Linked DNA regions of Homo sapiens: region 1 is linked to region 2. Evidence: fine-mapped expression QTL. A gene starts in region 2. The other region holds a variant in brackets. All regions are shown on one strand. Distances are between the middles of the regions.

Region 1 (15,088 bases), 32 kb before region 2:
TACAGCCTCATTAGGAAAAAAAAACATGCAAGCCAATCAGAAGACATTCCTCTATCTTGGGATAAAAAAAGAATTCATTCCAGGGTACATATAGAGCAGGGGTGCCCAGCCCCCAGGCTGTGGACCAGTACCGGTCTGTGGCCTGTTAGGAACTGGGCCGCACAGCAGGAGGTGAGCAGCGGGCAAGCAAGCATTACAGCCTGAGCTCCGCCCCCTGTCAAATCAGCAGAGGCCTCCCATTCTCATAGGAGCACAAGCCCTATTGTGAACTGCGCATGCAAGGGATCTAGGCTGTGTATTCCTTACGGAATCTAACTAATGCTTGATGATCTGAGGTGGAACAGTTTCATCCCAAAACCATCTCCCTCCCTGGTCCATGGTCCGTGGAAAAATTGTCTTCTATGAAACTGGTCCCTGGTGCCAAAAAGGTTGGGGACCACTGATCTAGAGGTCCCTTGGATCTAGAGGAGCTTGGATGGCAGGAGTTGTATCAAGAGTTCAGGCATCTGATGGGGCAGATGGAGTTTGATGATCCCTTTCCAGCACAGGTCCTCCCCAACTGGGCAATTCCATGCCTTATGCAACAGGGCTAGATGTTGGGGCCCGTTTTTCCAACGGACCAAAGAACATTCCCCATTTCTGCTGCCCAGGCACAGAAAGTGCTGCCTCCAGGCCAAGAGAGAAGGTGCACTACAGGAGGATACCCCCTGCTCTGGAGTTGACACGGAGTCGATACAGGAACAGCTGATTATCAACAGGTATGCATGGAACAAAAGGTGGAATCCCAATCTCATCCCTGCTTCAAATTTCACCTAAGAACCTTTTAAATATCTCTTACCTCAATGAGAACAGCCAGGACAGCGAGGCCTTCTGACTTGTTGCTGGCAGTGCTGGCGTCAGGATAAAGGTCTGAGTTATAATGGACAATGTGCAGCTGCAGTGGGGGAGAAGCCACCCATTAGGAGATAAGCGACTCATGGGAGCCTGTCGCTTCTGCAGAAGACTTGACTCCAACTGTGAGGACAGAACCCCAGCCCCCTCAGCCCCCCAGACTAGGTTAGGTCTCTCAGACCCTCCCCTTATTTTGCCAAGGATAAGGACATGTGCCCAAGGTGGTCAGGGCATGGCTTGTTTTGATACATTTTAGAGACATAATACATCAATCAATACGTACAAGATACACTGGTTTGATCTGGAAGGGCAGGAAAACTCAAATTGGAGGCTTCCAGGACATAGGTAGATTTAACTTTTTTCTGACTGGCAATCGGTTGAGAGTTATCATCAATAGAAAGGAATGTCTGGGTTCCAATAAGGGGTTGTAGAGACCAAGATTTTATCATGCAGAGGAAGAATACAAGTAGCAGGCTTCAGAGAGAATAGACTGTAAATATTTCTGATCAGACCTAAGGTCTGTGTTGATGTTAATGAATGTGGGCTTTTCCTAAATTCCAAAAGGGAGGAGGGTATAATGGGTCATGTCCAACTCCCTCTTCCCATCATGGCCTGAACTAGTTTTCATGTTAACTTTGGAATGCCCTTGGTCAAGAGGAGAGGTCCATTCAGATGGCAGGTGGGTGGGGTGGGGGGCTTAGAATTTATTTTTGGTTTACACAACCCATGCATTTTTGCTGGTTCTTTGTCCTTGAGACTATGACATATTGAGATTTTAACTCTATTTCTTTTCTCTTTTCATTCATCCTTTTCCATCTCATGTGTTTATAAATACAGTTCAACATATGTTATTGAATACAGCTTAATTTTCCCATTTCGAACTTTAAGTGGCTCCTTCTAACTTAAAAAAAATTATATATCAAATTATTTCTTCTTTTAAGTGGTCCTCTATTAAGGATTTCTTCAGAGCTCCTACTTCACCATCTTCCCCTCAAAGGACTTAGTCTGCCACACTGCCCACACCATCTCGGCCTGGCATCACTTTGAGAAACAGAGCTGAATTCTATATGATTAAAACCCCTGAGGTCCTAAGCCCCTATTTCCTTTTACAGCTGACCTTTGAGCTTGTGGTTTGTCTGTACTTTTCTTATTGTGCTCAGAGGAAGTGAAGACTAATCCAAGCATAAAGGAGCTCCCTGTTGAGGAGATTAAGATAGAAAGAATCTTTTTTTTTTTTTTTTTTTTTAATGGAGTTTCGCTCTTGTTGCCCAGGCTGGAGTGCAATGGCGTGATCTTGGCTCACCGCAACCTCCGCCTCCCAGGTTCAAGCGATTCCCCTGCCTCAGCCTCCCGAGTAGCTAGGATTACAGGCATGTGCCACCAAGCCCGGCTAATTTTGCATTTTTAGTAGAGATGGGGTTTCACCATGTTGGTCAGGCTGGTCTCGAACTCCTGACCTCCGGTGATCCACCCGTCTCAGCCTCCCAAAGTGCTGGGATTATAGGTGTGAGCCAACATGCCCCACCAGAATCTTCTTATATGAACTCCATCCCAAAGAACCACTACACTTCCAAGGTCCTTCCTTAGAGGACCCACTTTAGGGACACCCTGATGCCTTTTCTCTAGTATTGGCATTTATGGTCCATCTTAACCAGACTCTTGGTCTGATGCTGTGACTTAATAGCAGAAAATACAAGAAGTAGAAATATTTTAAAACACATAAACCCTGCCAATCTACACCCTAACCTCCTTTGTGAAAGGAAAATAAATCTCGAGACCCCCAAATCACTAAGCCAAAGAGAAAAGTCAAGCTGGGAGCTGCCTCCCATTCTATTCCTAAATAAGACGGCTACAAAGATAAAAAAGCAACACACCTCACATTTTGCCCACTAGGAAATTCACTGTGGGCCGCAAGGTCTTTACCCTAAAACAGTTCTGTTGAATTTCACCGTGACAATGTAAATGGATAACTTATCTTCATGGGTTCAGGACAAAGGATAGAACTCAAAGTCATCCCTCTGCTCACCTGAGACAAATGCATTTCTAATTGCTTCCTCTGCCCATGTCTGTTTTATTTTGTAAGAATGCAGATTCGCTGAGCTAGATGAATGCACAAGTGACTATTCCTCTACCCCTCTCTCACATGTGAACGGCTGATCAAAAACTCAGAAGAATGCGACCTCTTGCCTCTTACCTCCCCACACCTTTTAAACATTTCTCCCTCTTTCCCCAGTGTCTGCCCTTTCCCCTTTAAATATTGAAGCCCTCAAAATCATCTTTGTAGAAAGGCACAGACTTGTCTCCCTGTCTCCCGGGCATGTGTCCTTAACCTTGGCAAAATAAACTTCTAAATGGATTGAGTCTCAGACACTTTTTGGTTTACACCTTCTTTATTCCCCATGGGGGAAGCAGAAGTCTCAACACTGCAATTAGCCTGGAGGAAATTTCAGTTCTTGAGCTTCAGGGAAGGGCCGCTCTGAAATATGTGAACCTCCAGTGGTACCATCCTATTGAACCAGATCCTATCCCTTCCATGCTTGCAAGTAGACCTATGATTAGTCTGAAACATTAAGCAGTTCAGCAGTTATGACTGGAGGGGAATGGTCTCTATTTACCACGGACTCCCCTGGCTGATCAGTCAGCAGCATTTATCTGCTTGTATTTCCCTGTAAATATTCAGAGCCACACCCCCAGTTCAGGGCTATTGGAGTGCCAAAATGGAGCATCTCAACCCCCTCCTTGCCCCACCCCATCCTGCAATTGCATAGGACAAATGCTCTGCCCGTCTTCTAATTTTCTTTTGGCATTTCGGAGTAGCTTCTCAAGGCAACATGACACGATGCTGTGCTGGCTGACATCTTGTCCCTAGTGAGTCTGCTTGCCGTGATGCCCTGCACATTAGACTGCCAGGTACCCCTAGACTTGTGGCCAGGTAGAAGGGTGGCCCTAGACCCATGTCCCCATGTTCTAAACACAACCCATGCCCAGAGAGGGAAAGATAGCATCAAAATGATGCAAACAGCATGACATATGAAGAAAGGCTGAGAAGTTTGGGGGAGCAGTGAGCCCAGTGTGAGTCAGCAGGAGATTTTTATCTGCACAGATAGGAAGGCAATGTCTAAAAGAAGGGCATGTATGTCCCACTGGGCCACCCTGGGAATACTGCCTCCCCAGCAGCATCACTCAGTAAAAGACACAGGGACAAACTTAGCATGTTCAGGAGAAGAAAGGGACCAGGACAGTGCAGATGAGCTACAGGCTAGTGGAGTGGCTGCGCCCCTTGTGCCAGGGCCAGAGGTGGGGCAGAGAGCCTGAAGGCAGCCTGTCCCATGCTCTGGTGTTATCTGCACAGCAGCCAGGTCGAGAAGGTGCCACACCACCCACTGCAGAGCAGCCTCTGCCAGACTGGCAGCCCTACTTACCTCGGCGGCGAAGTGCTGTCCGCTGACGGTGTGCTCAGAGCCGTGCGGGTCATTCGGGTTCCCCCAGTGCAGGTGCAGCTGCGTGGCACTGTAGCGAGACTGGAGGCCCTGGATGTGCATGTCCGAGGGCAGGTTCAGCTTCACTGCGGGGAGTGGAGGAGCAGCCTTCAGAGCCCCGGCCAGCTGTGCACTGCCAGAGAGCAGTCAGGTAGGCAATGCTCCCTCCACCCCTGCTGCCACCCCCTGGAGCCCAGAGAGAGGCAGGTGGATGGAGTGAGGTGCGGAGCAGAGATGCAGCCTAAAGGTCAGACACCTGGGCTCTTTCCCTGAGAATGTTCCCTTTTCCCCAAAGCAACTCCAGTGGCACCAGCACCTTCTTGGTTCACCTTGGAAAGTGATGCCAGAAACGCTAACACTAGACCAACGGATGGGTGTTTATTTACATATTGATGGATCAGACACCTTTAGTGAAGTACCTTCCAAGCTTTAGAATTATATAGCAACAGCAACGATAACTGCTATTTATGAAGCATTTACTTCACTCTGTATGCCAGACCCCAACGTACATAATCTCCAGTCTTCACGGTATCCATCAATATGTCCATTTCCAGATGGAAGCTCAAGGAGACTAAAATTCTCACCTAGATTCTCATGGCTCGTAAGCAGTCAAGCCAGAGTTCAAATCCAGGTTGGTCTGACTCCAAAGCCTGGGCACCCCCCGCCAAACTGTGTGGTTCCTTGAATCGTTTATGGTCCAGAATTCACTCCAGCTGCACAGCCAATGAACTACAGTGCTCAGGCCGGTCTCCTGCCCCATCCTGAGAGATGTGCTTCTTCTGGGAAGTGCGGCCCTGGCAGGATCCTCAGAGCCCAGAGCCTCCAGCATCCCCTGGAGAGAGTGCTCCTGGAATCTCTCAAAGACACCCCCGCCCCGCCCCACCCCTCCTCCTGGATGCTTCCACGGAACACCTCCCTGCCAGATGGAAAAGGACAGGCCTGGCAGCTGAGGGAGACTCAGACATACCCCTCAGGTCTCCAAGGCCTCTCCCTCACCTGAATGGCCATTGTTGGTCAGGAGAAACTGCTTGTTGGCAGACAGATTGTAGCCTTGGAACTCGAGGGGCGTGAGGCTGGCGTCATACTGGAGGATGTCACTGTGCAGGTCTATGGGGGACTGCAGCAGGCCCCCACACGACGGGTACTTCTTGGACCAGCTATTCTCCCCATCAGGACCTGGACACAGAGATCCATGCTCAAGATTTAGAGTTTCTCACAAAGGGATTTTCCTTATCTTCTAATTCTCTGTTCAATACAATTACTCCTTTTCTCCTCTTTTCTGAATCCCCGGAGGTAAATCTTCAAGGCTCAGAGTCTTGGCCTCCAGAATCAGGTCCAGCAACCACTCAGGAC[C/A]ACCTGCTCTTAAGTGATGTGGGGAAAGAAGGACTAGGGCTGCACAGGCCAGAGCCAGAAGGCCACCGAACTCTGCTTTATTTTGTACATTGTTCCTGTTTGACACACACGTCAAGACCTGTTGACTTTCAGCAATTCAGCATCTGCTTAGCCAGTACCTATTATGAGCCAGGAATTACTCTGGGTCTTGGGGCTGCCAGGTTGAATACAATAGAGCCCCTGCTCATCCAAGCTGGCATTCTAGCGGGGAAGAATTTAGCAAATCTGCGGGGCCACCCCAGGTGGGAAAAATTAGTGTCTTACTGACCACAGTGCCAAGTATTATCTTGGTGCAAAAATAATTGCGGTTTTTGCCATTCCTTTCAGGCAAAAACCACAACTGCTTTTGCACCAACCTAAATAGGTCTTTGTGGCTGCTGGCTTTGCAAGTATGACCTTCCTGAAGAGAAACCCCTGAGGACATTGACTCTTGATACCCACATTTAGAGTAACTATAGAACCCAATCTGATAGGGATGATTGACAAATGTTAAATAATTATAGGCCTGGAATCACAGAGTGAAGTGCAGAGTTTAAGCTGGAAAAAAATATGACCACACTATAAACTAATTATTACAATATAATTGACACACTATCAGTGAAGAGGAACAGACTTTAAAAAAAGAAATTCCTCCAGGGCTCAAGCTTCTTGCTAACTACCAGATAGCAGTTCCTCCCCTGGAAATGAAAATAAACATGCTATGTGCAGATGAACTTTCCTACTCCCACAGGGAAAAAGTCTTTAAAGAATGTAAATCTATGTTTAAAAGATTATCTCCACGGTAATTAAACAGACTTTCAGGCCAAGGTTTCTCCAGAAAAGCAAAGAATTGGCATGTCATGGCTCGTTAGGGTAGACCCAGGGTGTCCTGTGGGCTCTATCAGAGCTGGGGATCAAGCTTTGCCATCTGGGGGTCCGTTCATCAGTATTTCAACACAAGGAAGGTGGGTAAATAGAGAAAAGGGGAAAGGAACACCACCTCTTCTGGGAATTCTTCTGTAGACCCCTGCACTGTTTCACAAGGGTGTAAATGTTATATTGGCCCCACAGAATCCCAACCCCCTACATCGTGCTCTCTAACTAGGGGACCGTATCTGAGAGTGGGAAGAATCCGAAGTGATACTTGGTACCCAGGTTCATTTCAAATGCTATGAGGCGTTGGTCCCAGGCTTAGTTAGTTCTTACTTCTAGGTCCGGACACACACATCGGAACCCTACTGATTTTTCAGGCTGTCAACCTTAGGCTATGCATTTTCAGAAATGTTACAGCATGACGGAATTGCAGAATCTCCAGTCCAACCTTTCACTGGACACCAGTCTTCTCACTTGGGCATGGCAGAGTCTCCGCTGAGCTCTACTATTCTTATTTTCAAGGCCTCAAAATAACTCAACTACACCAAGATGGTGACTAGGGAAGAGGGAGGCTGGAGGATATCAAAGCAGGCACTCCAGGGCCAAACTGGAGTAAGACAATTATTCAGCTGGGGGCCAAACCGAATGCTTTAGGGGCAGCGGGGAGCAGAATGAAGCAACCGTGAGGCCTCATGTAGAACCCCAGGGTCAGGAAGAGACACAGCACAGGGTAAGACTCCCTAAGTGAGGCTGCCAGCCTTTTCTGTGCTCACAATACTGCCTGGGCCCACAGCCAGCAGGGCGGAAGCTGCCAGCCAGGCATGAATGCAAAAAACTCAGGAAGTAAAGAGATGCATCATTGAGAAGCTTTCTCTTTGCACACATGACTAAAGGGAACTGGATTAGAAGGGTTTTCTTTTCCCACAGTGGAGGTTCAAAAAGGTTTCATCAAGAGGGCATTTTACTGATAGCTAAACGAGAGCCTCGTGAAGATAGGGACCCCTCATCTTCGTCTCTGTGAACCCATATTATAAGTAGGGTCACGTGCCCCCATGGGCATTTAGGAAACATTTTCCCAAAGAGTGAAAAAGAACAGAGGGCTTGGGAAAATGTGACTTGGGGAATGTTTCCTTTTTCTCTTGCTCTAAATACGCTTTATTGGAAGTTAGGACCAAATAAGGTATTTGGGGGGCAGGAAAGACTAAGGATATTAAAGGCAGTAGAGTTGGTGTTGGCAAAACCTGTCTTGGAAAGAGAAGCAGCTATGTTGGACCAGGGGAGTCCAGAGAATGAGATTCCAGCATCAGCTGTCCCAACACTTCAGTGGGTTATGTTCCCTGCTGGAGCCTCCATTGCCCTTCGTGCAAATGGTGGGGGTGGTGGGCGTAGTGGTGGGGATGGGATGTGTGTGGAAGCTATGTTCTGGAAGGTTCCTTCTGGCTCTTAAGCTCTGATATTTATTAAGAATACTAGGACTAAGCACCTTCTCCATCTGTCAGGCAAATTTGAATGAGTCAGAAAGGTTGCTCATGTCAAGGCAGCTACTGGGCATGTGACAAGGTGCCCAGGGGAACCAGCTTCGGGAATGAGGGCACAGGGCACCGGTGCTCCAGGACTGGCTGGGATCAGACAGCCATCTGCATCAGGAACCTGCCCTGGTCCTGGCTGCCATCCACAGCGGAGTTCGTCCTTGGGCACCAGTCACAGGTCTGTAGGTCAGCAAGGTCAAGAAAGCCTTGTCTTCGCCTCCTCCTCCTCCTCCTCATTGTTATTATATTGTAGTAGCTTTGATCCTTATAACTCTATAACCTTACGGGGTAAGCAAGGCAGAATTGCACCATTTTATGGGTGAAAAATAGAGATTTAAGAGATTTGCCGGAAGTTTGACTTTGGCTAAGTAACAGTTACTTTGCTTGGGTCACAGGACTTATGTGTCCTTCAGTATTTATCCAGGAGATTTTGTGCACCTGGAATTTCCTGGCTTCCCCACGCTGTCCTTGAAGACAAGGACCACGGCTCATCCATCGCTGCACTTCCCACAGTGCCTGGCACAGAGTGGGCCCTCACATGTTTACTAAGCTGAACTCTCAACACCTGTTTCATGCTTGTTCCTTTCCCAGGGAACGTGCACCCACCTTAATTCCCTCATGTATTTCTTCTCCTCAAAAAAGAGGAGGAAAAATGAGATCACTTGCTCAGGTTCAAAATGTACCCTCCTAGCTTTCTAGCTTACCTGTGTGCAAATGGTTTCTGTTTGGGGGCACTAATTGAAAAAGAAATCTGATTTCTGCCCTGTAGCCTGGGAGACGGCCTGCCAAGGAAGTTCATAGGGCCCTCCCCCAGCATGTAATGGCTAGTGGGTGTCCCCGCCTTGCATAGCTGGGGACACTGTCAGAGCAGCCTCCTGTCTTTGTGGCATGTGAGAGATAGAGGTGCCATGAGGGTGGGCACCGGGACAACCAATATCAGAGGTGACAACAGCAGGCCTTTCTGTTCCCTGAGCTGTGACATGTGACTGCACAGTGCTGGCCTTATGCTGGCCGCTACACCCTGGGCTACCATTTTCCAACTCAGTGTCAGCTTTCACACTCATGCCAAGTGCTCCACTGCCAGAAATCCTCCACTGGGAGTGACTCTCCTAAAAGAAGCATTTATTTCCAGCTAAAACTTTGCCTTTGCTCTTCTGAGTTTTGACTTCGCCTCTCCAGTTGGTTGGACTCCTCCCATGATCGTGATACAGGAGGATCACGTGTCTTTCACAGTTTGTTTTTCTAAATAAAGCCAAGGCATTATTTCTTTCCTGTCTATGTGTTTTTCCTGCTCTAGGCAAAACAGAAGTGGTCAGAATTCCTGTTTCGAAAGGTAACAAGAGATTAACATGGCACAGCTCAAAATGCCTCTCGTGATTTCTGATTGGGAATTTTGAGGCCCAGGGTGTAGGACCTGCATTATCCAAGGACCAGAATGTTTTTACAGAAAATTTCAAATGTATACAATGTAGAGAGAGGAGTGGAATGAACCCCATGTCACCCAGCTTGGACAGTTTACAATTCAGAAACAGTCCTGCCTCATCTATGCTAAGCCCATTCTCCCCTTATCTACCTGGATAACTGGAAACAAATCCAGATATATTTCATCTGTATATATTTCATATGTTTCTCTAAAACATAAGGGCTCTTAAAACCACAGTACCATGACCACACCTAGAGAGTTAAGAATTAATACCTTAAGATTACCGAATCCAATTAGAATTCAAATTTTTCCAAATAGGTCATAAATTTTTAACAGTTTGTAAATTTCAGGGTTCACATACAGTCCATATATTTTTTGCAATATTGCAATTAGAGGATGTGTTATGGCCTAGATTACAGCTTGATGGTGGAATGCCTCATCAGAGAACACCTGGGCCCCGCTCCTCCAAGGCTCAACATCTCAGAGCCAGCTTGGTCTATCCTTTGCCCTTAGTGGGTCATGGACTCCCATGCTTCCATGGGTTAGGCCCTCGCCATGTCACACTGCAAAGGCTTCCCACAGGCAACCAGCCCCAGCCTTCCTTGTTACACTGCCAGGCTGGCTCTCCTGCAGTAACCAGATCAATCTTGTCATAGCCTGGCTTGGGTGGCACCACCCCACCACCCATCCGTACACTCCCTTTCTCCCTAGCATGCCCTGCCCCACCCCAACAAGACAAAGCACAGCCTAGCTGTTTTTCATGGCCTTGAAGTGCCCCAACCTGTCAAAGTCTTCAAAGGCCCCCACATCCCGCCCCAGCCTGCCCCATGCTTCAGCCAGCTCCCTGAGCCTAAGAACAGGCTATGCCAACCCACCTTCACAAATGCCGTTATGAAAAAATCTGCTCAAATGCCCTCTTCTTTCCTCTGCACCTTTCCAAATTTCGTCCACTCTTCAAAGTCCAGCTCAGGTCCTGCCAAAGCTACCCCAGTGCTTTCTAGTCCCTGACTTGAACTTCTCGGCCAGCCTACTCGGGTTGTGCACACTAGCAAGCAGTGATGATTGTTAGCCTGCCTCACCTGTGACTGTTAGAGCCAGACTAGTACAGAAACTTATTACAGACTAGAGCTCAGAATATGAGTTTCAAAGACCTTTGGAAGACCAGAACTTTATGTCATATCCCTACTTATGTCTGAACACATCCTTGAATGGATGTGGAGGGTTTTTTTAAGCTCATTTCAGAAATTTAGCCATAAAGGGATGAGAGAAGGGTGTATGCGTGGTGGTTATGGTAAGGTGAGGGTAATGTGAAAGATTTTGTTTTTTGTTTCTGTTTTTGTTTTTGAGACTGAGTCTTGCTCTGTCACCAAGGCTGGAGTGCAGTGGTGCAATCTCAGCTCACTGCAACCTCCGCCTCCCAGGTTCAAGCAATTCTTCTGCCTCAGCCTCCCAAGTAGCTGGGATTACAGGTGCGTGCCTCCACGCCCAGCTAATTTTTTATATTTTTAGTCGACATGGGGTTTCGCCATGTTGGCCAGGCTGGTCTCAGACTCCTGACCTAAAGCGATCCACCTGCCTTGGCCTCCCAAAGTGCTGGGAATACAGGCGCGAGCCACCGCACCCAGCCTGTGTTTTTGTTTTTTATGAAGAGGCTTGAGCAAACTGCTATGCAGACGGCAAAAGAGACCAGAGAAGGAAGGTTGGAGACAGAAGAAAGAGGGGCTCACTGATGAAAGGTAGCCATGAGAAGACAGTGGGGGGATCCAGGCACCAGAGTCAACATTAATTCTGCCCCATGACACTTCTTGGAGGTCATACTCTGAGGTGGACCCCCCTGTGTCTGTGTCAGTGCTCACTGCAGGCAGCTTCCTGGAGAACCTGCCTGGGCCCAAGCTCCAGGGTACATCTCTTTGGGCCGGCTACCAACACGCAGTCAGATCAAAACTTGCCCCAAAGGATACCACTGTAGTGGCAAAGTTTACACATTCTAGATGATGACACGCCCTTTTTCAACAAATAGGCACAATTTCAGGACAATGATAGCTTTTGGTTAGTCCCTCAAAGTTTGTTTTGTAAGGAGGTCTGACCATAATGAAAGGCATGTGTATCTATATGAAAATGATCAAAAATTATGTACCAAATTTGAATACACATTTAATAAGATGGATTGTATTTGCAATAAAAAACGAGTACTCAAATGTTGAATGAAGGAGAAAAATCTCTAAATGCTCTCCTTCTTGGAGTGCAATTTAATTTTGGAGTTAATGCATTCATTTCTTCAACAAATGTGTCTAGTATGTGTCAGGCACTGTACTAGGTGCTGAAGATGCAATGGAGAACAAAACAGCTCTAGTCTCTGACCTTGCGGCACTCACAGACCAGTGTAAGAGACTGATAATAAATAACAAGTAAACCAATGCACAAGGAAATAATTGCAATCTGCAATGAGCGCTGCAAAGGAATTAAACGAGGGCTGCAACAGAAAAATGGAGGGATCCCTGTCAAGCAGATGATGCAGGCAGGCTTCCCAGAGGAGGCGCCGTTAAAGCTGAGATTTAAAGGACAAGTAGAACCAACCATGAGTGAAACGTGAGGAATGGCGTTCACTAGAGAGGGCCCAGCAAGCTCAGAGGCCCCGCTGCAGTGGAGAGGCTGGTATATTCTAGGGATGTGTGATGCATTGACTCAGAAAGAGTCTGGGATCCATCCGGCCTCCCTTTGCCAGGTCTGGGTCCTGCCCTGTGCCAAGGCTGAGCTAGGATCATTTGACACCTGCTTGTGTACATTCCTCCATCTGTTAGAAAGGTCTTCCTGTTGGGAGGCTAGTACCTGCCTCTCTCTGGGGGTCATCCAACAGTCCCGCTCTTGTGGCTAGAGCCACAGAGAACACAGCTAAGCCACAGGACTCAGAGGGGACCGCAGACTTCATGTCCCCTCTAAATCCATCTGGAAACCAGACATCCTCAGGATGGTGTCTGCATGTAAAAGCCATTTTTTTAAAGAGATGGGGTCTTGCTATATTGCCCAGGCTGGTCTCAGACTCCTGGGCTGAAATGATCCTCCTGCCTCAGCCTCCCAAAGTGCTGGGATTATAGATGTGAGCCACTGCACCCAGCCTAGAAGCTACATTTTAAAAACATGTTTAAAATATATTTATAGGTCCTGCAGTTCACTTCTGAAGCTGATTAAAATATCTATGTCTTCTCATAAAAACCCAGTGGGTTCAGCCAGTCAGTAGTGTGGTTCCCACAGCATCACCTTGGTAAGAGGTTGACCCACCGCACAGAAGGCCACAACCTGCTGAATTCTACCTGTTTTCCTGCTGGGTAGGCGGAGAGGCACAGTCATAAACCCCAATGTCCTGCCCAGAAGGAAAGGAGGTGACCAAGGACATGGGTTAATAATTGATGGATGAGGTCTTATGATGTTATTATGTACAAACAGAGGGCGAGGAATCAAACTAGCGTTAGAGTTTTCCTTTGTCAGTATCACCACTGAATCAGAGGTGGTCCCGGGACAGTGAGGGAGGGCTAGAAGGGGAGGGTTACTTGTTATGAATAAAGCTCAAAGCTGGACTTGCCATAGCAGGCCAACTCTTTTTCTTGGATTTTACATTATAGATCAATAAAAATAAACACATTTTCTAAAGATGCTTTAATCCATACTTTGCATCAAACTTTTGTCTAATTTTTGTTTGGGTCAGCTGGAGACGGAGGGTTGAGACTTGGGCTTGGTAAATCCCCCCAAATCTCCCCTTGGGGAGGCAGGAGGATCAGTTGAGCCCAGGAGTTTGAGACAAGCCTGGGCAACATAGCAAGACCCCATCTCTAAACAACAAAAAAAGTGGCTTCTACATGCAGACACCATCCTGAGGATGTCTGATTTCCAGATGGATTTAGAGGGGACATGAAGGCTGCTGTTCCCTCTGAGTCTTGTGGCTTAGCTGTGTTCTCTGTGGCTCTAGTCACAGGGGCAGGACTGATGGATGTATTAACACAGAGAGAGATGGGAATCATTTCCCATCCAGCCATGGTGGTGGGGGCCAGGAGTGCAGGCTGGAGGCCAGAAGAGGTGAACCATAAGGCTGGGGCTGCCAGCTCAGCCCTCCACCCACCCTCAGGAAGTCCTTCTCCTCCACCCCGCCAATAATCCCCGTCTAATATTGCTGGGTGGGGGATGAGGCGGGGACAAAAAGGCTCCGCAGTCATTTACACACTGGTGTCAAGGCCTGCATCAGGTTCCTTCTGGAGATGAGGTTTATTACAGGGAGGCGGGTGGGGTTTCCAGGCTGCCAAAGGTAAAGGGTGACGATCTGTTTGCTTTTGCTTCTCCATTTCTAACCTCCTCTTAGGTTCTCATGACCTGTGACCTTAGAGTATGTTCATCGTGGAGAGGCTCTGCCCACCTCTCTCTGGACTTTTCTGTGTCTGCTCCCACCCCTCCTTTTCGTTCCAGCAGCGCTGAGCTGCTTGCATCCTGCAGACACACCAAGCTGCTTCACATCTCCCTGAAACACCCTCCCCTCGCTGGGGCAGGGCAAAGGGTTTCCCCCTCTTCTGTGCTCCTATACAGCCTTTGCATTTCTCTTCCTTGCAGCAGCCACACTGATCAAAGCAATATTGTCTGCCTTTCCACCCCAGTAGTCCAGTGGTTCTCAAAGCGTGGCTCCAGACAAGCATTATCATCACCGCCTAGGAACTCATTCAAAATGCAGAGTCTCGGGCCCCACCCCAGGCCTACCGAACCGGACACTCTGGGGGTGGCGCCCAGCATCTGCCGTTGGACAAGGCTGCCAGGCGATGCTGCTGCGGGCTGAGGCTGAGAAGCGCTGCACTAGACTGTCAGCTCGCTTTCTGCATGCGTGTACACCTGGCTCCTGCTGCAGAGCCTGGCACACTGAAGTGTTCAACAAACAGCTCTTGAACTAAGCAACAAACAACAGCAAACCACTAAGTTAAACAAACTGCTGACATGCTAACAACCTAACCCCTATCATGAAAACTAGCCAGGCCTGAGCCCCCCATCAGTGCTCACCACATGTTATCCTCCTTCATCTTCCTTGGCCCATTCATGTGAGGAATCGTGCTAGATGTGAAAGTGTTAAGTCCACAGCCCTGTAGCCACCGCCCTCGCAAGACATCCTGCTCTGTCTTTCTTAAACATAATATTCAAATAGGGGGCTCCAGGCTCAGGCAACGACTGGTAACCATCTCTGAACAGAAAGGACTACAGATACCGTCTTTTTCATGCACTGTTATATGCATAACATTTACATGATTAAATATGGTGTTTGAAGTAATTTTTATTCAGTGTTGACCATCAGAAACATGGTCATGTTTCTAACCATGTTTTCATGGCTTAATCTCTTTTTAAAAATTGTCGGCCGGGCACGGTGGCTCACGCCTGTAATCCCAGCACTTTGGGAGGCCAAGGAGGGCAGATCACCTGAGGCCAGGAGTTGGAGACCAGCCTGGCCAACATGGTGAAACCCCGTCTGTACTAAAAATACAAAAAATAGCTGG
Region 2 (15,088 bases):
ATTAGCCGGGCGTGATGGCACACCCCTGTAATCCCAGCTACTTGGGAGGCTGAGGCAGGAGAATCCCTTGGACCCAGGAAGCAGAGGTTGCAGTGAGCCAAGATCACGCCACTGCACTCCACCCTGGGTGAGAATGAGACTCCAAAAAAAAAAAAAAAATTTGTCCTCCCACACCTTCACACAATGTCTCTGTTCCCTGTCGCCATCTCATTCTGCCCAGGAGGGCTGTAACAGAGAGATAGGGATAGAGGACCCCGTAGAGATGTGATCTGTGTTTCTATCATACCTGAGAGGCCAGCAGAAGAGGTGGGGCAAGCTTCCTCTCTCTGGATAGACAGGTCTTGGGAACCATGGGTCAGTGATTCTCTGATAGAGTGCAGCTAAGAATCACTTGGGGAGTGCGTTAAGAATACAGGTTTTTCAGGCTCCCTCCCTTTCCCAGGTCTAGCCCAAGGCCTAGAAATCTGCATTTTGGGGAAGTATTCCAGGTGATCCTGATGTGGGTGATCCCAAGCCGTAGTTTGAGAAACACTGGTCTAGACAACCCCTCCTCCAGGTTACAGATGGGGAAAGTGAAGTCCTGGGGCTGAAATGGCTTACTGGGGATCATATGGAATAAAGCCCAGAACCCAAGTGCCACCTTCTTTCCATGCCTGTCACCTCCTACACACGGAACCTGCCCAAGGGGCCCTGTGGCCCAGATTCTGCGATTCTTACTTTGTCAGTTCTCTTATCCTGGCCTGGCCTTCCCCCTCACTGCCACCACTGTAAACTGGATGTGAAGACACGGAACGGGGTTTCTCCACAGGCCAAACACCTTCCTGCCTCCCTCCATCCTTCCCCCTCCACCTCCTACCACCAAGTAACTCTTCCTAAAACACAGACTTACTCCCTGCCCTGCCCCTCCAGGAGCAGGACAAAGTGGGAAAGGCCTGCCCTGACCCTCCACACCTCCCCTGTTTGACCCAGCCTATCTCTCTGACCTTAGAGCCCGTGACTCCGCTATCAACCCTTCTCCACATGCTTTCCTCGAACACCACCTTGCTCTTTCTTGCTTCTGCTCAACATCACCTTAGCCAACAGCACCCACTCCCCACTCACCGAATCCTCCTTATCTTCCAAGGCCCAGGTGAAAGCCCTCCTCCTCCAGGAGGCCTTCCCTGACCATCTAGCCCTAGCACACTCGCCCTCCTTTGAGCACTCAGATCTCTGAAGCATTTGTTTATGATGTTATTATTACCTATTATGTTCTGCTTTGAATTGTGAGCTTTAAGTAATTCCCAACTATGGACCACAGCCTACCCTTCTATTACCCACCCACTTAGCAATGTGCTGTGCACATAATCAGTACATAAGGGATGTTAGCAATAACGGAGCCGTGCAGTGCTGGGGCTGAGGGGACCTTGGCCTGTGGGTAGCTGGTTGGTCAGTTCAGTGACTTTTCTATGCATCTTGGGCTGGTGAACCTCCAAAGGCTGACCTATGCAAATTGGTGTCAGATCTTTCTCTGGACGGTGCTTCCACTGTAGTAATCAACTTCCCGCCTGTCCCCGCCCACAGCCATTGCATCCTGTGGCTTTAACTTTGGCCACAACCCTGCTTGCTTAAAATGCCTCCTGTGCCAGTGAGTCAGTTCCACCCTTCTGCTACCAAAACAATCGATCTTGTGCATCTTCTGTGGCTGTGCCCCAACAAGACATTATCAACATTCCCGCACTGGCCAGGGGACTCAGGTGTCTGGCCTGCCACATCCATTCCAGCCAATGACCAATTTCTAATTCACTGCAACTCTCCAGCTAAGCTGATTTCCAGCTGCTTCTCTGGCAGGCCTGCCAGATGGGGCTAACATGCTCTTGGAGACCGTCCCACAGAAAGCCCAGGCAACAAGCACACTGGTGCTCCTCTCGCTTCATTTAAGACAAGCATCCCTCTTTCACTAAGCACTGACCAACACCTCTTCATCCATCGCTAGCTTACAATCACGGCAACAAGAAGTTAATTCTAGACATACTGACAGCTTAAGTTCTGGGACCTCAGCCAAACTTTCAGAGAGGAGCCCTTTCTTCTTTGTTTATAATAGGATATGTGTCCTGCAAGGGAGAAAGGCTCTCTCCTGCCCAGGACCCTTGCAGTCCGGAGGTGGGGCAAGTTACCTCCAAATCTTGGAGGTTTGGTAGAAATCCTTGCAGGAATCTGAAGCCTGGACACTATGACTCACAGTCCTGTGCCTGGAGCAGGCTCGCCTGCTTGGAGAAAGTGCAGTATGCAACCCAAGTTGAAGTGTTCTTAGGAGATGCCTTTGTACTCTCTTTCTACAATACAAGAACTGTGCTTCCGACCCTTCAAAATCACCTCCACAGAGCATGAAGTTTCTGTTTTTCTCATTAAATACAACCATTTCTATTTTCTTTTCAACAAAAAAGTATTTAAAATCTCTACTTACCAAAATAAGTCCACTTGGAACCTACAAAGAACAAAACACAGTAAGTAAGTACAATGGAACCAGATGAGTAATGGAAAACACTACAGATTTTGTTTTGATATGAGCGAAATTGAAAAGGAGGTCGATGCCCAGAAATTGAAACTTTTTCTTTTTCTTTTTTTTTTTTTTCAAGGTGGAGTATTGCTCTTGTTGCCCAGGCTGGAGTGCAGTGGCGCGATCTCGGCTCACTGCAACCTCTGCCTCCTGGGTTCAAGCAATTCTCCTGCCTCAGCCTCCTGAGTAGCTGGGATTACAGGCACGCACCGTCACGCCTGGTTAATTTTGTATTTTTAGTAGAGATGGGGTTTCTCCATGTTGGTCAGGCTGGTCTCAAACTCCCGACCTCAGGTGATCCGCCTGCCTTGGTCTCCCAAAGTGCTGGGATTATAGGCGTGAGCCACCATGCCCGGCCAAATTGAAACTTTTTCTGAGTCTGCATCAGAACAGCAGCTTCTCAGGGCAACTGTGCTCCAGTCAGCAGCACAGGCAGTTGGTTCATGCAGAGGCTCATGGAAGCAGGAGGGGGTTCTTGAGCAGGTGCCTTCCAGACATCTTAGAGAAGCTAAACTTTATTACCTGAATAGGCAATAATTTCATGTGGCTCAAAACCCAAAAGCCATCAAATGGTATATACAGTAGAAGCTCTTCTTCCCACTCTACCTTCCCTGCTTCCATTAGACAAGGAGGTTAGCTGATGATTGGGAGCCCTTTCATGGCATGGCTACACACACATATGCATTGATCTCCCTCTTTCTCCTCACACAAACATTGGCATACTGGAAATAGTGTTCTGTGTCTTGCTTTTTCCCACTTTACATTTTCTCTCTCTCTCTGTCTCTCCCCTCCCACTCTCTTTCTTTCCTTTCTTTCTTTCTTTCTTTCTTTCTTTCTTTCTTTCTTTCTTTCTCTCTCTCTCGCTCTCTCTCTTTCTTCTTTTTCTTTTTCTTTCTCTCTTTCTCTTTCTTTTTGTGAGACAGGGTCTCACTCTGTCACTGGAGTACAGTGGTGTGATCGCAGCTCACTGCAGCCTCAACCTCCTGGGCTCAAGCAATCCTCCCACCTCAGCCTCCCTAGTAGCTGGGATTACAGGCGCGCACCACCACACCTGGCTAATTTTTGTATTTTTCACAGAGATGGAGTTTCACCATGTTGCCCAGGCTGATCTCAAACTCCTGGGCTCAAGCGATCTGCCCACTCCAGCCTCCCAAAGGGCTGGGATTACAGGTGTGAGCCACAGCACCCAGCTGGGAAAAAGTTTCTCTTTGAGGAAGCTGCTACCCACATCTGAGTTAGAATTCCAGGGGTAGTAGGAATGTGTAGGCAAAGTTCTGCCAGAAAGAGAACAAAAGTCACCCACTACTTCGCACTCCACACTCTTCATGCATAAATGTTCTTCGTTCCTATGTCAAAAAAGGTCTTTTTCACAAGTGCAGAGCTGTGCTCTTGTGACCCTGCCTGCCGGCCTTCCTCTTCACCTCCGAGGAAGGGACCCTGAGTAGAGAAGCATCCCACTGTGTGTCTCAGGTGACTCATCCAATGAGGGGACTGTGCAACTCCTAAATCCCTGCCTCCCAACTTTTCCCAGGGTCTCCGTGGTTCTCGACCCACAAGGGTACAGATGGAAAAGCGTACCCTTGTGGGGAAGCACCTCACATCCCCTTTCTCTCGTGGGAATTAGTTTGCAGTAAAACTTAAGTGACAAGCAATCTGGTCACTTATCACTCCTGGCATTTCCTACTTAAGGAAATTGTGTTTTTTAAAAGTTAAAAAGTGAACTTGGCTTTTTTTTTAAAAAAAAGCCGGTTTAATCTCATATTTTTTGTTATTCTGTTCCATTTCTTTGCCTCAGTGTTTGTAATTAATTTTGTTTTTAATTTTCCAATGTAATTGGTAATTTTTATCAAATTACACTTGCACGTGGTTTAGAAAGTCAGATGGTTCTACAAAGCTGTGTAACAAAAACCTCAGTTCCCTGACATTCCCTAACCATGTACTGCTCCCTAGAGCAACCACTTTGGATCTTTTTAAAATGATTCTTTTGCTATTATCTCCATATCTCTATATAACATGCTAATATTGTTTTACCTTGATTGTTTTATGTTTAGGCATTATTTATTGACATCCCACCCTGGAAGAGAAGAGTTCAGATCTCTTTCTTACACTCATAGCCCATCTCCTCCTTTTGTAGGTGAGGAAATGAAAGTCCACCAAGGTGAAGTGTCCTGACCAATATCATATTCCCACTGGAAGGAGTCCCACCGCATTTACCATTAATTTAGCATTAGTGCCATGAACTTAGGGAATCTTCAAGTCTCCTCAATCTTTGGAGTAGTTAAGTGGAGGAGTCCAGACCCCCTGGAGTATCCGATGAGTATTATGGACCTCTCCCAGTAAAAATTTCCCTAAGCTGGCTGGGTACGGTGGCTCACCCCTGTAATCCCAGCACTTTGGAAGACCAAGACAGGCAGATCGCCTGAGGTCAGGAGTTCGAGACCAGCCTGGCCAACATGGTGAAACCCTGTCTCTACTAAAAATACAAAAATTAGGCAGGCGTGGTGGCGGGTGCCTGTAATCCCAGCTGCTGGGGAGGCTGAGGCAGGAGAATTGCTTGAACCCGGGAGGCGGAGGTTGCAGTGAGCTGAGATTGTGCCATTGCACTCCAGAATGGGTGACAGAGCGAGACTCTGTCTCAAAAAAAAAATTTCCCTAAGCTTAGACACATAAAGTTTTATATACAAGTCATTTCAGAAGGTCCACAGACTCCCCTGAAACCAGCTATGGGTGCATTGAGAGTTGAGGGTCCCAAGATCAACCTCCCTTGAATTAGTAATTAGACATTCAGAACCACGGGGAAACCAAACTTGTATGTGACCCCCAAGTTTACTGCTCACCCCTTTGCTGAAACAACAATGAAAAAAAATAAAGAAAGCATTGCTTTCAAACCAAGCTATAGAAGACATAAAACCTCTTCTGGACATTTTCTTCAGTCTTTTGTGTGAGAGGTTCATTATTAAGATGTAATCCCAGACCTTAGAGATATAATAAGCCAGATCATTACCTCTTAGCAGGCAGAACAGTTGGAGGCCCAGGATGTAAAATTCCACAAATAACAGAGGAGTTCACCCTTACTTTTCCCCTGAGGAGGCACAGGCCACTCCAGTGATCCTGGAGGCCACTAGAAACACATCTGCTGCCTGAGCACTGCTGCCTTGCCAGCAGTTTGCATTGTACCTGCTCACATTCAAATCATAGCCTTATACCCTACATCTTCTGCTACCCTCCCAGGGCTCGCTAATCAAGGTTTTCCCTGTTGTTGGAGTTCTCATCCTCAGATGAGGCCTCAGCATCACACTCTGGAAAGCTCAGGGCTAAAAGTCATAGAGTGGACATCTGGGACTGTGAGGTCGCGGTGGTGACATAGGACTGGGGACTTGTTGAAAGGCAGCAGCCTCCAGAGCAACATTCCCTGCCCTCCTCTCTGTGAGTGAGCTGGCTTGGGACTCCAGACTCGGCACTTTGGGTATAAATGGCAGTGTCTGGAGGGGCTCAGGAGCTGGAGGGCTGGGGAGAAGCGGCGTTGTAAGTGAGGATGGTGAGTCAAGGGGGTTCATCGGGTGAGGATCAGGGCCCCAGCTCAGCTCTGACCTCAGGAAGTCTCTCTAAAAGTGTGTGTATGTGTGCGTGTGTGTGTGTGCACGCGCACGAAAGTGTGCTTTATTCAGGAATTGCACCCCCTGGTTCCCCACTTCTAGCTGTAAGAACAGAAGGCTTAAAAGGATTAAACTGATTCCACAAGCGAGGCCAGGCCAAGGCCTCAGTGGCATCCTGAGGGAGCAGGCCCTTCCTGGAGGGGAATAGTTTCCTTCCCAAGGAAGGTTATCTGTTCCATCTGGGAAACCTGGGAGGCTCAGCCTGAAACCTGTTAGAACCTGCAGACCCAGCTGGTACTGGGCAGGGAGGTTCCCCTGGAGGGAATGCCCAGAGAAAATGGTATTTACCAAGATCCATATCAGAGGTCCTGGGCCCTGCCTGCTTCCTGTGCTGGGTGCTAGAACTTTCCCTGAGTAACCATCTCCTGGGTAGCCCAAGACTGCCTGGCTCTCCACACCAGGTTTGGGCAGGGCAAGCTCTGCAGAATTCACTGAAATGCCCCCCAAAGCCACGGCAACTAAGAATTCCAAGGGTTTCTCCAGAAGACACTTGACTTCACATTATTATGCTCCCTCCTGGGCCCCTGACATTGTTCTTGAACATTCTCCAATGCTGGAAGTTTAAATGCACCAGGCAGAGAGCAGATCACACTTTGACCCCATTACTCAGCTTAACTCCTCTCCACCTCCAACTTTGGGTTCATGCTGACATTCTACACCTCAGTGATTTTTGCTTTGACCTGTCCTCTAAGGCAGTTAAAAACCCAAGGAAACTGCATGAGAATTTACAGAATAAAAGCTGTGCTCTACCCAGGGGTAGGCAGTCTCCTTCCTCAGAGTGAGGCGAAAGTGGAGTTTTGACTACAAACTTCCCCAGTCCCAACTTGGAGAATTGGGAGAGGAGATAAGGAGGAGGGAAAGGGAGAGGGAAGAGGAAGAGCAGGGAAAGTAGGGAAGAAAGGAAGGGGAGGGAGGGAAGAGAACAGGGAAGGGCAGGAAAAGAGAGAGAAGGGAGGCAGAGCTGCCCCAGAGTGAGAGGAGCAACCAGCTATAGGAAAGAGGGCCAACTAATGGCTGTTTCTCCCTTTGGTCTTGGAGCAACTTAGGACTAAAGAGATTTCCAGGGAAACTTTGGTCTCAGTGCAGCTTTCGTAAAAGGAAACATGTAAAGTTTGTGGTTTTAAAACTTGATTTTCACTTTTACATCGCTCCTTTCTCCCAACTTCTGTTACATCGCTTCTGTTTCTCCCTGACCAGATGAGGGAGATAATATCAAGCACATCATGCCAGCTAGTTGACTGGAATTTAATTAAGAGTTATCCACAGCCTGGCTCCCCTGCCCTTCCCCATGGGCACTGTGACCTCCAAGAGAGGAGGCTCAGAGCTTTTATGCTGCTGAGCAGGACACATTTCCCACCACCACTGCCTCGCCAGGAAGAATCTAGTTTCAGCCAGTAAAATCACTTTCGGTCCAAAATCACTTTCTTATTCCAAAAGATTAATGAACCAGCCTTGGCTGTACACGTGTTAGCTCACTGGCCCGGCGTGAGCCCACAGTTCAGGTCCCCTCTGCCACCTCCTCCTGTCACTCCACGGAGCCTCCATTCAGTCCCTCAGCCTCCAGCCTTTTGGGATTTAGTGTTCTAATTACAATCAGAAATATGCTGTGTGTGTGTGTGTGTGTGTGTGTGTGGTTTGTGTGCGTGCGCGCGTGCGTGTGTGTGTGTACGTGCACACACACGTACATTCAGCATAGTAGAGCCCTCCTGGAGAAAAACAATGATTAAGAATGGGATGCATCATCCCTTTGACTTGTAGGTAAGACTTAATGGTAAAGATCCTCTCCTCCAAAGAAAAGCGCCTACCACTGTCTGCGGGTTCTGCACAGGGGCACAGCAAACCTTTCTCTGTGCTTACCCCAATCAGAATGCCACAGTCATGTCTCTACTTTCTAAACGTGGATCAGGGGAACGCTGTTTTAAATCTTGGCTTTGCATCTCCTCCCTGGTTAGCAAGTTCCCAAGCCACATCTTCAGAGCTGGCGGTGCCCGGGAGTACACGCAAACATTTTAACACCAAATCTGCGCCAAGCGCCACTAGAAAGCAACGTGCTTCCCGACCCAACCTCAGCAAAGGAAAACGGAGCATCCTTTCTTGAGAATCTACTATTTGGTACTACACCTTCCCTGCTCCCCGCAGCAATGATTTTACTTTATCATTGAAGAGCCTTCAGCCCAGGGGCGGCTGAGCGCTCAGGAGTGTTAGGAAAGAAGCAGGCGGAAACTTTACCGTTCACTGGGGCCGGGCTGGAAGGCTGTTCCTTTAAGATCACCAGCAGGAGCACGGCCGCCGCGTGCAGGCTGCGCCGGGGCATCTTCGCGGGCTCCTGCGGGGCGGGCGCGGGCTGTGCCGGGGGCTCCCGGTGGCCGCTCGCTCTCCAGCTGCACACCGGGACCGCGTGCGCGCAGCCTGGGTGCCGTGGCGAGTACGTCCGCCCTTCGCTCTCCTGGCTTCCCCGGGCAGCTTTTATGGAGCAACTCAACGCCAAACACTTGATGTCATCGTGCGGGGAGGGGGTGGGGGAGGAGAACGCCCTGCCCACCGGAGGGCTGGCGCCCCAGATCCTAGGTGAGTTGTAGCCTTGACTTCAGCAGCACTCTGCGGGTCCCCGGCGCTCCTCTGGGCCAGGGCTGACCCAGGAACACAGTTCTCCGAGGAGCTGCTGGCAGGCGTGGGTGAGATCCGCCTGTCTCACATCCAGAAGGGTGCGTCTAGGGATTCCTTCAGTGGCATGCCCTTGGTCTGTCACTGGTCCTGTAACAGCCCAACGAGTTCACCTTGCCCGCTGCTTAGACAGAGCCCATTTATCAAGACAGGGGAGTTGCAATGGAGAAAGTAATTCACGCAGAGCTTGCCGTGCCGGAGACCGGAGGTTTTCGTTCCTTTGTTTGTTTGTTTGAGACGGAGTCTCGCTCTGTTGCCCAGGCCGGAGTGCAATAGCGTGATCTCGGCTCACTGCAACCTCCGCCTCCCGGGTTCAAGCGATTCTCCTGCCTCAGCCTCCCGAGTAGCTGGGATTACAGGCACATGCCACCATGCCCAGATAATTTTTGTATTTTTAGTAGAGGCGGGGTTTCGCCAGTTTAAGGCTGGCCTTAAACTCCCGACCTCAGATAATTCACCTGCCTTGGCTTCCCAAAGTGCTGGGATTACAGGCGCCCACCACCACACCCGGCTAATTTTTCTAATTTTAGTAGAGACGGGGTTTCACCATGTTGGCCAGGCTGGTCTGGAACTCCTGACCTCAAATGATCCACCTACCTTGGCCTCCTAAAGTACTGGGATTCCAGTACTCAAATCAGTCTCCCCAAGCATTCCGGGAGTTGTTTGTTTGTTTGTTTGTTCAGACGGAGTCTCCCTCTGTCGCCCAGGCTGAAATGCAGTGGCATGGTCTTGGCTCACTGCAACCTCTGCCTCACGGGTTCAAGCGATTCTCCTGCCTCAGCCTCCTGGGTAGCTGGGATTACAGGCACGCGCCGCCACACCCAGCTAATTTTTGTATTTTTAGTAGAGACGGGGTTTCACCATGTTGGCCAGGCTGGTCTTGATCTCTTGATCTCGTGATCCACCTAAAGTGCTGGGATTACAGGCGTTGAACCACTGCACCCTGCCTCTGGGAGTTTTTAAAGATAATTTGGCAGATAGGGGCTTGGGACTTGGGGAGTGCTGATTGGTCAGGTTGCAGATGGGATCACAGGGGGGTTGAAGTAACGTTTTCTTGCAGTCTTCTGTTCCTGGGTGGGATCGCAGAACTGGTTGAGCCAGATCACACACGGTCTGAGTGGTGTCAGCTGATCCATCCAGTGCAGGGTCTGCAAAATAGGATGTTAGATTTTACAATAGCGATGTTATCCCCAGCAGCAACTTGGGAAGGTTCAGACTCTTGCAGCCTGACGCCGCAGGACCCCTAAACCATAATTTCTAATGTTGTAACTAATAGATTAATCGTACAAAGGCAGACTGGCACCCAGGCAAGAAGGGGGTCTTTTCGGGAAAGGGCTATTATTGATTTTGTTTCTGAGTCAAACCATAAACTGAATTCCTTTCTAAGGTTAGTTTGGCCTATGCCCAGGAATGAATAAGGACAGCATGAAAGTTAGAAGAAAGACTGAGTCATTTAGGTCTGATCTTTGTCACTGCCATAATTTCCTCAGTTATAATTTTTGCAAAGGCTGTTTCAGCCCTACTCAGAATCCCCCAAGTATAGTGCCATTTGGGCAAAAGCCTCCTTCATGCTTTTTTTTTTTTTTCTTCAGGTGCCTGCCTGGACTTAGCACAGGTTAAGGAACTGGACAAGATAGTTACATTCACATGAGTTTCTGCCAATTGTTCAGTGCATCCTGATTAAGTTCTTACCTTCCAAGTTGAGATGCAAAGAGATGAACTGAGAATAGGAGAACAGCACAGTGGGGTACACATGAAGAGCTTATCACAATTCCCCTTAGTAACGGGTAAGTAGATGGGACTCATGCTGGTTCAATACATCATTCCATCCTCACTAGGAAGCTGGGAGAGAGGGTCCCTCTTTTGGGGTGGCAGCAGAAGAAAGGGACTTACATTATTTACTGAGCACCCGTTGTGTGTCAGGCACTTTTTTGGGGGGCTTAGAACATGATACCCCAAAGTATGGCACCTTGGCATGCTGAGTACTTTGAACTGAAGGAAACTGAAAAGGCCTCAGAAACAAGGTCTCTCTGACCTTCTCCCATCCTCCTGTCTCCTGCCCCTTCTTCTCCCGCTAAGTGAATCATAGAAACCAGAATCCCTCTTCCCCAGGCAGGTCATAGAAAGTAGAGCCCCTCTCCTCCACAGCAAGCCATAAAATCTAGAAACATCACTCTCTCCCCTCTCCCTTCTCCTTTAAAGACCCTCATTCGAGAGGGGTCCTGCCCCATACCCAGGAGAAAGCAATGCTACACAGAGAGGTCAAGAAGAATTGGAACGGACAGGCCTTGCTGGGTTCCCCTCAGTCTATCACTATGAGATCACACCCTTCTCTCCAATCACATTTCTATACGGCCATCCATGTTCTTCATCAAACCTAAGCAGAAACACCGTTCTCCCTGAGTCTTTGGGTCTTCATTTCTGAAGTCTCTTGTGTCACTTGTTGGCCTGTCTTTTGTTATTTGAGTGTCAACTGTGACCTTTATGATGGGGGAGGAAAGGGATCACACCTTTCTGTCCCTACAGGCTGTGCTAGACCTACAGGCTGTGCTAGAGAAACAGGAGTGTTTCTCTAGTCTTGTTAACCTGCTGCCCCAATACCCCCTAAATCTTCCCACTGCTGTTGCCACCACTGTAGTCATTTGTGCTTCTGGCTTCCCTGGGCCCTCCGTGTGTCTCTGCACCGCTGCAGGGGCCAGGCTCGGTTTCCTCCCCGCTCTATGATCCTACTCACTGCTGCCTATGCACACTGCTCAGGTCACATGGGCTGCGGAAGGGTGTCCACCCCAGTTCTGGTACAGGACCCCTGGGTTTGTGACCTGGCCTGTCATGCCCTCTTCTCTTGGCCACAGCAGCCAGACAAGCCCTCTCTGATCTCACATCTGTGCTGACCCTCAGCCTGTGCACACTCTCAGGCCAGCCTTAGTGACCAATGAAGCCACTTGTCCGTGGTGGGTTTGAAGGGATGGAGTAACTTCTCCTCCAAGAGCCACCAAAAAGCAGATGCCACCCACATTTCAAGGGGTGTTACTGCTCTGTCCCTACCAGCTCAGCTACTGTGTGGGTTAATAAAGGGCTTTGAAGTCTCCTTAAGGAAGTTGTTACAAAGACAATCTTGTTACAAGCACTTCCAGACCACAGTAGGCTTAGGGATCATCTTTTCTGCCTGATAGAGGGCCTCGAGTGAGCTCTGGAGTGGTGCAGGAGTGTTTCTCTTGTTCAGATTTGTCATCAAGGGCAGTCTGTCTGTTTAGAAGATTAAATGGACTAGAGGAACACAGAGCTTGGGGAGAAACCACTGCAGGCTCAAAGACGCAGAGACCGAATCTGTGGAGGTGAAATCACTTGTTGCGCATGTCACAACCAGTTAAAGGTAAACTGGGCCATGCACACATATTTTGGTATTCCCACTCCAGGTGTTCACCCATCATGTCTGTCTAAACATTAAGTTCATTGTCTCCTGGAACATGCACCTCTAAGTATTCTCCAGAGATCCCCAGAGATGGAGAGGTTAAAATGGCAGAAACAGGTGGACTTCATAGACCAGTAAGGCTAGATTGTGAACTGGGTTTCATAGACAGAATGAACAGGGCTGAGATGTTTACTGCATGGCTGTGTCAGAAACTTGGTTAATTAGTAAATAATGGATAGCAATTAAAAGGGAATTGAGCATGTAAACTGAGACCCAGAATTATTATTATTATTATGAATGGAATGACCACAGGTATTCAAGTTGAATGTCAAGGATCCCCCCCTGACAAACAGCACAGACCCAACCAGCTTAAGTTCCCAACTCTGGGAATCCTTTGTCTGCTTCCTCAGGCTTGTGCAGATGAACATGCAAGGGCTTGCTGTGCCATCATCAGCTGGGGCTGTTGTCAGCCAATAAATAACCCATTGCTCAATGAGTTAGGGTAGAAAGTAGACCTTCTGCACTCAAAATGTGGCAATTGGCCACCAAATGACATGCCTAGACAGGGAATGGTACCCCCTAGGATGTTACCATCTGAATAGACACAAGGGTGAGGCTGGTGAGTCAAGGGGCAGAGAAGCAGGAATGAACAAGGATTTGGTGTTAGGAAGTCTGGGTTGGCTGAAGTGCCTGCCCCACCACTTCCTCAATGGCTGACCTTGACCGTGATGCAAGCTTTCATCCTCTGTAAAATGAAGGTGTAATCCATACCCCTGAGTCATCATAGAATTGATATATGGCTGGAAGGTGATAAGGCCAGTGGACATTTTCTTCATTCATTCATTCATTCATCTTCTATGTGCCAGGCACTATGCTAGGCTCTTGGAGAGTGCACAAACATAAAACAAATAATCTCATGAATAACTATATAATTACAACTCTAATGAGTGCAATAGAAGGTTGAGATATGACTGAGAGGGGCCCACTCTGTCCTGGGGTGGTGAGGAAGACATCATCAGTATAAGGATTATGTTTTGTGACTTCATAAAACCTTTGAAATGCACAGCACATACCAGGCTCTTCTTTCCCAAACCTAGTGCCATTTGGTGGCATTTGCCCTGACATAGCTAGTTGTTAGCCTTTCAGGCATAAAGGTTAGAGTATAGAGAATTTTGTTTCTTAAGGTGATAATTTTATTTCTTAAGATAAGAATGAACTCTTCAAATGGTGTCACTCAATTGGGAATGCACCTTTATATGGAGCTAAAGAAAGGACTGCTGGGAGGAAAATAGACATTTAGTGAGCACCTACTGTTTGCCTGCCACTGTGCTTGACACTTTATTCTTACAACAACATGCAGGGATAGTGTTAGGTTTGCCATTTTATAGATGAGGAATCTGAGGCTTGGAGAAGTTGAATCTTTTCTAGTTCATGAGGAACCCAGATGATTTTGTCTCCAAGGCCCAGGCAGGCTCTTTTCATGGCTGTCCTACAGATACCTCAGATGGAGATGTTTTCTTACTGGGTGCCTCTAAGAGGAGGATTCTCCAGTTTTCCTTCTTTTCTTTTCTTTTTTTTTTTTTTTTTTTTGGACAGTCTTCTCTGTCGCCCAGGCTGCAGTGCAGTGGTGTGATCTCTGCTCACTGCAACCTCCGCCTCCCAGGTTGAAGTGATTCTCCTACCTCAGCCTCCTGAGTAGCTGGGACTACAGGCGTGTGCCACCACACCTGACTAATTTTTGTATTTTTGGTAGAGATGGGGTTTTACTATGTTGGCCAGGCTGGTCTTGAACTCCTGGCCTGAAGTGATCTGCCTACCTCAGCCTCTGAAAGTGCTGGGATTACAAGCATGAGCCACCATGCCTGGCCTACGGTTCTCCAATTTTCTAGATGCTGTGATCGTTTGTTTGTTGATCAGAGGCACGTGTACCGATTGTAGCAATCAAATAATGCTCAGCATGGGATATGGCTGTGTCTGAGGGACCAAGGGACCCTGTATCATACTCTGTGATCAGTGGATAGAACATTTGCCAAAAGAAGAGCTCAGAGCTTTGAATCGACGTAGGTCTCAAGCAAAGGAAGGAGAATGTGAGCCATACCAAATAGCTCTTCTGTTACATTAACGAGGTTTGCTTTGACTTAGGAAGGCCAGACAAGACAGAGGCAGAGAGGGAAGGGGGAGGAAGGGAGAAGAGGGAGGAAGGAGGGAAGAAGGAAGGAAAAGTCCACATTGTATCCTTTGACTGGGCAGTGGCTGAGGGAACCTCTAGGCCAAGACTCACATAGACCCATTGATCTGGGTACCAATGTCTGTGTTTTAAAATATAGCCAGTTTTGTAGTTTTATTCACATCTGCGTCTTCCCTTTCACGGTGATGGCTTGGAGGCGTAACCCCTGTGTGAACCCTCGCTGCCCTGCTCAGTTTCAGGCGGGATCAGTTGGAGGACAGTGTGACCTGGAGGAAAGAATGCCAGGCTTCTGACTCTGCCAGGAGCCAGCAGTGGAATGTCAGCAAGTCCCTTGCCGTGTTTCTGCTTCTGTTTTCTAATCTGTAAGTCGAAATAAGAATGTCTAACTCCACACAGGGTTGGCAGTGGGATGAGGCCGTATATGTGAGAGCACTTTGGGAAGAAATAAATAACGACATTTGTCGTACATAAGATGTCACTCCTAAGAGTGGACTTCACAAGAAAGGAAGTGTGTTTGATCTCAGCTTTGGTTTACTAATCTAAGAAAATAAAAACTGGATTCCAACAAGGGATTGTAAATTCTCACTGCATACCTGACACCAGTTACCATGATGACTCTTGTCTGGTTACTT

Which allele goes with the higher level. Alleles are on the strand shown, and positions count from the first base shown. SD is a standard deviation of normalised expression in the study named.
As copies of C replace A in region 1, the expression in monocytes after LPS of the gene that starts at base 8,632 in region 2 goes down (moderate effect, 0.46 SD a copy in Fairfax 2014).

Evidence for each region. PIP is the estimated chance that this variant, and not a neighbour inherited with it, causes the effect.
Region 1: its variant is the best candidate, but not a certain one, in a credible set for the expression of CA12 in monocytes after LPS (Fairfax 2014, PIP 0.58).

What each region holds. Positions count from the first base shown.
Region 1 is chr15:63,341,164-63,356,251 of GRCh38, forward strand. CA12 (carbonic anhydrase 12) reads right to left here. Exons shown (of 11, transcript NM_001218.5): 3 at 5,367-5,546; 4 at 4,314-4,456; 5 at 839-934. LOC124903506 (a long non-coding RNA gene) reads left to right here. Exons shown (of 3, transcript XR_007064676.1): 2 at 651-758; 3 at 2,975-3,247. Among named protein-coding and RNA genes, the nearest start is that of CA12, 33 kb to the right of the region's middle. RefSeq lists a silencer at 4,247-4,434, an enhancer at 5,190-5,359 and a cis regulatory region at 5,275. The variant C/A (reference allele first, on the strand shown) is at 5,724.
Region 2 is chr15:63,373,215-63,388,302 of GRCh38, forward strand. It overlaps CA12 (carbonic anhydrase 12), which reads right to left and starts at 8,632. Exons shown (of 11, transcript NM_001218.5): 1 at 8,422-8,632; 2 at 2,444-2,464. The coding sequence starts at 8,506. RefSeq lists enhancers at 8,316-8,836, 8,837-9,356.